Regions from separate parts of the Homo sapiens genome. Here region 2 is linked to region 1. The links come from fine-mapping of genetic effects on gene expression. A gene starts in region 1. The other region holds a variant in brackets. All regions are shown on one strand. Distances are between the middles of the regions.

The links. PIP is the estimated chance that this variant, and not a neighbour inherited with it, causes the effect. A credible set is the group of variants that fine-mapping cannot tell apart.
Region 2: its variant is the best candidate, but not a certain one, in a credible set for the expression of EML1 in esophagus mucosa (GTEx, PIP 0.59).

Annotation. Positions count from the first base shown.
Region 1 is chr14:99,791,470-99,795,858 of GRCh38, forward strand. EML1 (EMAP like 1) reads left to right here and starts at 1,944. Exons shown (of 22, transcript NM_004434.3): 1 at 1,944-2,074. The coding sequence starts at 2,008. RefSeq lists a silencer at 1,638-2,117 and an enhancer at 1,865-2,696.
Region 2 is chr14:99,816,423-99,820,811 of GRCh38, forward strand. The region is part of intron 1 of EML1 (EMAP like 1); the gene reads left to right. Among named protein-coding and RNA genes, the nearest start is that of EML1, 25 kb to the left of the region's middle. The variant C/G (reference allele first, on the strand shown) is at 1,920.

The sequences.
Region 1 (4,389 bases):
TATTCTCTTCTTTAGAGACTTCATCTACAACCCCTTTGCTGACAACTCCCAAATCTCAATTCTTTCTCTCCAGTTGCTACAGGGCACTTCTAATTGGAGGTTGTGCTGTCCCCGCTTGACCTTCCTGTCTTTCCAGCTGTATGGTCCTATAGCAACTTCCCTCTGGCCGGCCCTTGGTGCCTCATTTCTGGAGCACTGCAGACATCCTGGGCTGTTCCAGCAACAGGCCGCGGCCCCTGCAGCCCAGTCGGCAGGCAGACCCAGCTCCCTAACACAGCTCTCAACAGTGGCCTGCCTGCGTGAACCCTCCAAGCGTTCCTCCATCTCCCCCCAAGTCTGGTTCAGGCTCCTCTGCAGCTCTTGGGGCCTCTCTTACCTGGCCCCTTGCCCTCAGTCCAGTCTTATTTCCCACTTGTCTGCACAATGTCTGCAGGCACCGTTCCTTCTTTCCTCACTAGCAGTGTCCTGCCCACTGTCCTCCATCCACCAAGTCACAGTCAAACCCGCAGCACCTGTGGCCCTTCAGCCTTCACTCACAATGTATCTTCCCAATTAACAATCCTGCTAGGACAGGAATAAGCTCTTAAACTTCTCCCTCTGCCCACAGCATATAGCACCAGTCCTTACTAACCCATGCACTAACCGTGCCGCACGCAGAGTGACAGAGCCCTGTCCCTCACCTGCCATCTACTGATGTCCAAGCTGGGCTTCTGGAAGGACAGGCCTCTGAGCCCAAGCGAGACCTACGAGTTTTCCTAATTTTAACTTACTCAGTTCTTATTTCACCTACTCTATTCAACCTGCACAAGTTAGTACCTACCATTTCAGATTTTGGCATGGAACTGAATTATGACTGATGCAACAGGAAGTGTAAACGTTCTGCAGTCTCTTTGGGACCAAGCTCATTCTTGGGTTAGATGATCCATTTTATATATTCTAATTTATTGCTTCCCACTCGTTATTTGGCGCATCTTTACTTACTTTACTCCATGGGTATAAAATGCGAACCATTAACAGCATTTATACGTGTATGGCCTGGAAAAGTTACAAACTCATAGATCTATGTGTTTCTCCGACTGCGCTATTTTCTCCTAACTCTTGGTGTCTTTCTGATGTAGAATAAATACTGATTTCCTTAGTCCTGTAGCAAGTTAACAAGCCTGTAACGTGACAGATCTGTATCCCAGGGGCTGATCATAGAGAAACCACAAAGCGATGTTTTAGCTGCGTCGAGTCCTCAACACGGGGGACTTCCAGCCTGGTACCAGGATAGCCTCTCTGGCCCAGTGTGAGCGAAGGTTCGAGCTGACTTGCCAGTCCCGTGCTAAGTCTCACTGAGGCAGGGCCTTGCTGCCGCGGAAAAACGTGTGGACAGAGGAACGCGCCGGTCGGATGTGGGCCACAGTGAGCCGCGGCGTGGAAACGGCCGAAATGTGCGGGCGCGTTGTCCATGTTTGGTCGTGGAGCTGCCCGCGGGCGCGGGAACAGCGCGTCGGGGGCGGGTGGGCTTGGGTGTCCGTGGCGGAGGTTACCCCGGGCCCCACGCGCCCGCTCTCTCCCGGCCTTGGTCTTTGTCCCCGCGCCCCCGCAAGGGCCGCCCGCCGCGCCCCGCAGCCCCTGAGCCCCCGTGCGCGGAGGCGGGGCCTGGCCAAGGGGACAGCGGGCGGCAGACGCGCCCCTGCGGCTCCCAGGCCGCCCGGGCCGCGCTCCCCGCGGGGAAAGAGGCCGCAGGCGCGGGGAGGCTCGGCCCCGCCCCGCCACGTCCCCCTCCCGGCCCGGGCCCCGCGGCCGCCGAGGCCGCCCCCTCGCGGGCGGAGCGGGCGCTGGGCTCGCGCGGCTGCGGCGGCGGCGGCGGGCCCGGGGTTGCCATGGTAACCGGCAGCAGCAGCCGCCACAGCAGGGCCGGCCCCAGCGCCAGCGCCGGTCGCGGTCGGGCTCAGCTCAGTGTGTGGTGAGCGGCGGCGGCGCGGCCGGGCCGGGGAGCGGGCGCGGCCCGGCGGCCTCAGCATGGAGGACGGCTTCTCCAGCTACAGCAGCCTGTACGACACGTCCTCGCTGCTCCAGTTCTGCAACGGTGAGGGGCGGCCGCGCGGGGCCGGGGCGGCGAGCGGCTGGTGGCGGGCGGCGGCGACGGCGACGGCGGGGACCAAGCCGAGGGGCCGAGGCCCGGCGGCCGCGGGCGAGGCCGCGCAAAGTTGTTGCGGAGGGGCGCGCGGTCCCCGTTCCCGCCGCCGGCGCATTGTGTTGGAGCCGCGGGGCCGCGCCTCGCTCCGGGCCGCCCCGGGCTCCCCGCCGCCACCCCGGCTCCCGGCACTGGCGCGCGGACCCCGCCGGCTCCAGCACCCGCGGAGCGCGCCCGGGCGGAGGCGCGTGGGGCACAGGGCGGCGGGGAGGCCCGGGCAGCCTCCGCGTTCCGGGGAACGTGTTGCTTTTTTGCTTCCCGACCCACATCTGTTTGGAAATGACTGGATGAAGAACTCGGGAAACAAATCCTTTAATAACAAAACCCTCCTGCGAGGATGCACGCAGTGTTTGGACCCCCAGAACCCATTCAGGTCTACTTTAATGAAATCATCACAATTTAATACAATCTAGAGCTTTTTAAATGGAAAGCCAAAGTGGACCTGGCCTCAGTGTTGCTTCTTATTTTGTTTATGGGATAATGGATTCTTTTTTCTTTTTTTGTTTTTGCAATTTTACAGGAAGGAAACATTCATATCCACCAATATGGCATCTTTTTAAAAATATGAAATCCTACATGCTTGAAAGATTTCAGTCTCATTGGCAGGGTTGAAAAAGATTTTCATAGCACACTGAATATTTTATCAGAACATGATGTGTGATAATTCACGCACAAAAGTTAACCACACTTTTTTTTTTTTTTACATGTTGGATTTATTGCTCCATCAAAGGGCCCCAAAAGTTTGTTAATGGGAAAAAAAAATGTGTATTTGATAGAATTTGCTTAAGTGCAGTCGGAATAATTTTGAATTCTAGACCCTTTGACAACTGGAGCAATTTATTTTGCTATTGTATTGTGATTTAGGGAAAGTTTTCTTGTTATTCGACACCTGTTTGTCACTGTAGCAGTAAAGAGTAATGAGTGTGTTGATTCATCCTCTGTAGTGGTATTTTTTATCTCTGGTGAAATTTATCATCTTGTTCATGGTAGAATGTATACTCTGATAGCTTTTGCAGCTTATACTTTACATCTGAACCATTTGTGGGCCTTCATGAATTTAGTAATTCCCTCTTCAGTGGAATTAAAGAAAGTTTCTGCTTTTTCTCTGAATTTAACGCCAGTTTCCAAGAGCAGAACACCTGTGTTTTTGAGCCTCAGAAGGTGTTGAGGGCAGGTAGAATGTATTTGGTATGCTGGTGGTCCCTGGAATACTTTATAGTATAGAGTCATGGGAACGGTTTTGCTCTCCAGTAGGTTAAATAGATTCCTCAATTAACATTTTGAATAGGTTCCTTAATTGACTTATAATCAATCATATTTGAATTATTGTTTTTGATCTAAAAAGTAGTTATATGCTTATGGTAGAATTCTCCCTATGCTTAGTTGGAAAGATATGTGGCTGAAATTTGTATTAAATGACTTTGAGGCATCAGGTCTTACAAATTTAATCTGTGGGCGTATTATTGACAGCTTGATTTGCGATATGAAAATGAGCCTAGATATTTTTATTGGAGCAGTTGTTTGGGGCCTGGTCATACTGTTCCTAAATAGCAGTTTAGTCATGAAGTTGACCTACACGTCTGTTCATGAATGTTTTCGTTTTCTGCATTTTCCTTTTAATTGCCAGCCTAGAGATATTGGCATGGTATTTTACTGGTGGTGATGTCCAGAAGAAAGTAAAAACCAACTCTTATATTTTGTAGAAGTATTGGTTTAAAGAAAAACCACCTTAACTAGAATCAAACAATAAGATCACTTTATAACTATTGAATTACTTTTCTCAAAAAGTTCTCAGCTCTGTATTTGTTATTTTTTTTTTAGGTTGTCTAATGAATAAAGTTTAAAGCAAGAGTGGCCTATGGGGCAGAAGTCAATGTTAACTGGTGATGTCTTAGGCAACAGATGTTTTGATGTGAAACATTTTAAGAGGCTTTCATTAAGTGAAGATATAAATGAATACAAGTCAGTTAATTACTATGATGATTCAATTAAAGCAGTGGATCACAGAAATGCCATTTCACTAGGAACTAAATTAAACATTTGGATATTTCATTAGCTACATTGGCAAACAATTTTTTCTTTTTAAATGAGAGACTTACATTACAATGGCAAGACAGCAGCATAATACATGAACTCATACATTTTCATATGTTCAGTATGCGTCATGCTGTTAATAGTGACAGAAACTAAAAAATCATGGTTACAGC
Region 2 (4,389 bases), 25 kb after region 1:
AAAGTTATGGGATTATAGGCGTGAGCCACCGCACCCAGCCCATGTTTGATTTGATTCCCACAACCACAGTCTGTCTGTAGGCAGATAGGCCTCGTGCTACAGATAAGGACATCAGGAGCTTAGAGGCTGGATGGATGCTTCACTCAGCTCGCCTGGTGACAGTGGGATTCCTGGTCCATAGGTCTTCTTCTGACCCACATTGCTTCTTAGTTTGGTCCAACTTTGAAAGTTGCATGTTTCATTTGAAATGAAGAAGGCCTAAGCCAGAATGGTACAGCTGTCACATCCAAGTGTAAGATCCATTTCTAACTGCCAGAGGCATGGCAGATGCCTCAGAGAAGGGAGGAGTCCATTTGGATGGAGCTGTGTGTGGCTGACATCTTCCTACTCCATGTCCTTCACTTTGGCACGTAGGTTAGCAGTTCTCAAGCTTTTTGGTCTGTCTTGCGTTTAAATGGCTGTTCTCCCAGGCTTGATTTTGTAACACCGTGCTTTGATTCCTTGAGAACATTGATTCTCTGAGTTATGCAGACCTTCCAAATGTGACATATTTCATTATACAATATCAAAAAAGCACATGGGTTAATATCAACCCCCAATGTCATCAAAACAGCATGTAGGTGTTGGGGAGCTGTCAGGCTTACAGAGGCTGGTACAAGTTTTCCAAAGTTCTTTCTTTTTTTTCTGGAAAGCTCAAATTTATCCTTGGCAGCAAATGCTGTTGTTTTTCCTGGAGTGACGGGCTTACTACATTCATTTTTTTGAGAAAATGATTATAGAACACTCAGGTGTGAAGAACCCTGGTTTGTCCATCAGTTGTTCTTTCAAGTGAAAATGATGTTCCCTCAGAAGAAGCTCACAGCTTGACTGCACAGTGCTCAGTTTGGCTGGTGTGCAGCAAAAGTGCTTCATAAAGAGACCTGTACTCAAGGGTTGAGCTTTAATAAAATTAATATTGTTTACAGCGTCATCAAAGGCCTTTGTATATGAACTTGGCATCTTTCTTGTAGGTGGCAGTGAAGAAGAGCACAGCGACGTGGTGCCTGTCCCGGCTGGTGCTGAGGCAGCCCAGGTGCCGCCACCATGGCTCCCGCAGCATTAGTGCAGGTGTCACACAACGACAAAGGAAATTAGAGCTTGGCATTGTTAAGGACGTAATTCTGACCTCAGGGACTTCCTGAAGGGGTCTCAGGGACTCAGGGGTCTGTGGACCACACTTTTAGAACTGCTGCTGTTGAGTATTGGAAAGTTCCCCATTCGGCACATTCCTTGAGGGCCGACTCTGTGCCAGGTGTTGTGCTAGGTGCTGGGGATACTCAGATGAACGGCACAGTCCCTGACTGCAAGGAGCTCACGGTCTAATGGAGAAGGGGGTCAAGTAAACAGATGCTTGCAAAACCTTCTCGTAAGTGCCATGATCACAGTAAGCAGAAGGGATGCTCTGCTAGAGTGTAGGTGGAGCCCCCAGCCCAGCTTGGTATTCTGGTGGTGGTGATAAGGGGTGTTTCCTGGAGGAAGTATCACTGAGCTGAGTTTGGAAGGGTAGAAGTAGAAGTAAAGCCAGTTAAAGAAGATGGGGGAGGTGTTCCATGAAGATAGAGTGGCTCGGGAAAAGGCTTGGAAGCAGGCGAAAGTGTGCAGTGTTCAAGAAACCACAAATAGTTCAGTAGGGCTGCAGTACAAGAGTTGGGGGTGGGGGCTCAGGGATAAGAGGGGGCCAAAGAAGTATCTGGAGGCCAGATCCCAAAGACAATGGAGATCCACTACAGGAGTTTAGCAGGGATGTGAGGTGATCAAATCTGCACTTTGGAAGGATCACTCAGACATAAAGAAGAGGAATGGGATGCGGAGTGATGAGAGTGATGGATAAACCAGTTGAGGTTGTTGCCGGAGTCCAGAAAACACCACTTAGGCCCAAA[C/G]CAAGGAGGTGACAATGGAGGTGAATGTGTGGATATTTAGAAGATATTTAATGTCCTATATCTGCAGATATTCGAATAGGCAGGATTTGATGATTGATTCAATGTAGAGGGCAAAAAATATGGAATCAGTCAAAGATACACCAAGATTTGTAGATTGATGGCTGCACGGTGGTGCTTTCATAGAGGTGAGGGGTGTGGGAAGAGGATTAGAGGCAAGATGACCATGCGAACTTCATGTATCATATTCACACACACGTGTGCATCACTCTATCTTCAGGCAGAAGTGTCCAGAAGGAGTCAGAGCTGGAGCTTGAGAGGGTTCTGGCCTTGAGGTGTCAGCTGAGGAGTCATCAGTGTAGGTCGTGGTTGAGGGCCCCCTTGTTGATGAGATCACCCAGAAGGAGAGTGTGGACTTGCCGACTATAGTCACAGGGCTCAAGTCAGGAGAGAAGTCAAAGCAAGCCACGGGTTTTAGGAGGAGGGAAACCTGAGGCCTGGATCGTCCTGGTCCTTCACGTCTGCAGAGGAGAGCAGAGAAGAATTTTAAATTATTAACTCCTCAACTAAACTACATATCGTCAGAACATGCTTTTCAAATTAATTTAATTGTTGATTTTATTTAGTTTTTTAGAGACAGGGTCTCGCTCTGTCACCCACGCTTCAGTATAGTGGTGCAATCATAGTTTACTGCAGCCTTGAGAAACTCCTGAGCTCAAGTGATCCTCAGCCTCCTGAGTGGCTGGGACTGTAGGCATGCACCACCCTGCTTGGCTAAGTTTTTTAAAAAGTTGTTTTAGAGACAGGGTCTTGCTATGTTGCCCAGATTGGTCTTTGAACTCTTGGCCTCAAGTCATCCTTTCACCTTGGCCTCCCAAGGTGTGGGGACTACAGGCATGAGCCACTGCGCCTGGCCAGAACATGCTTTTAAATGTAACATACTAAACATGATATTTTATGAGAATACAGCCTATATAATATACGATTTTGTTCCTGAGCTCACACAGACTTTAGGTCTGTAAAGGATGGTAAAAATACCAATTACAGTTTATATTTCCTTTTCCCACCAGAACATTTTTATTTTAAAAGTAGGGTGGTTTTTCCTTCCCATCTATGGTTTCATAGTTCTCGGAAATGTTAACCCTTCTTTCTCTATACGAATAAGGTGTCCTGGTAATTTTGCAAGTGATGATTTCCATTATGGTGGGTGGCCACGACGGAAATGATGTTAGAAGTGCCAGCGTGCACGTGAAGTTTAGACAAGATCTGTTCCTTGGCCCTGCGGTGACGGGAAGAGGGGAGATGGAGGTGTTCACTCTCGTCTTAGAGCTTGGTGTCAGGAAGCTCTGTCTGGAGGTTTCCCTCCGTGGTGGGAGGGGTGAAGCAGACATGGGAGGGGGAAAAGGCGGGTCTGCAACAGGAGCCCAGCCTCTCGCACCGAGCATCCCTCAGTGAAGCGCCCAGGCCCACACCACGCAGCCAGCCTCACTGGGCTGGGGGAGGGCTCACGATTACTTTCTGTTTCTCTGCGTTTGAAAATCTTGTGTAATGTGCTTCTGCACTTTTAAAATCAAGAGGAATAAAATAATAACCAAATAAAATGACTCTTAGCCCTGAGCTTGTGACACACAGGCAATTTGCTTATCACCTAGGCCACCAATTAATAGTACTTCCCTATAACTCAGGGCCTGGGGGGTTCCAATGGAAGAGCTGAGCATGTCTGGAGGATGTTCCTGTCTGATACCAGCCATCCTAACTTCCAGAATATAGGCAACTTGGCAGCAAGAGTTTTAAGGTTATTATCAACCTGGTATGTGGTTGTGGAAGTTGATATATCTTTACATATTTTTACTTAAAGCTTTTTAGCTCTACCTATACATGGGAGCAGGGGCTAACACAGTATTTTGTTTTATTGATATATTTTTCGTTTTGTGGTTACTGAAAGTGAATTGTATGGCACGTTGCTCTCACTTGTAATCAGTGACGGTGTAGCCTAAGAAACCTGGTCACTCAACTGCATTGCTCAGCGGAGAGGAAGCTTCTGTACGTCTTGGACCTTACTATTGGTAGCCCGTGCTCAGCAGCTGGCCTCTTGCAAAGGGAGGACTATTGAGGATGAAGAGAAGAATCTTGACATCTCAACCTCTTCTCACCCTGGTTTCTGCATCATAGTTTTACCATTTGGTTAGAACACCAGTTCAATGCACAGTCAGATATACAGTGCAGGCAAAATACGAAACCAAAGATACAGAGTAATTACTTTTCCATTATCCCAATGTACTTTTTCTGTGAGCAAATGAATTCCTAACCACAGCTTGTATACCGGTGTCTTAACGTCAGGTAAAGGATCCAGGGGCAGGTTCCAAATTGAAGCTATATTTTGCTTTAGTTCACCTCCATTAACACTTAGGTCCAAGTGTCGTCTCTAGTCGGTTGCTGTAAACTGAACTGAAGTGCCTCCACTACAAGGAGA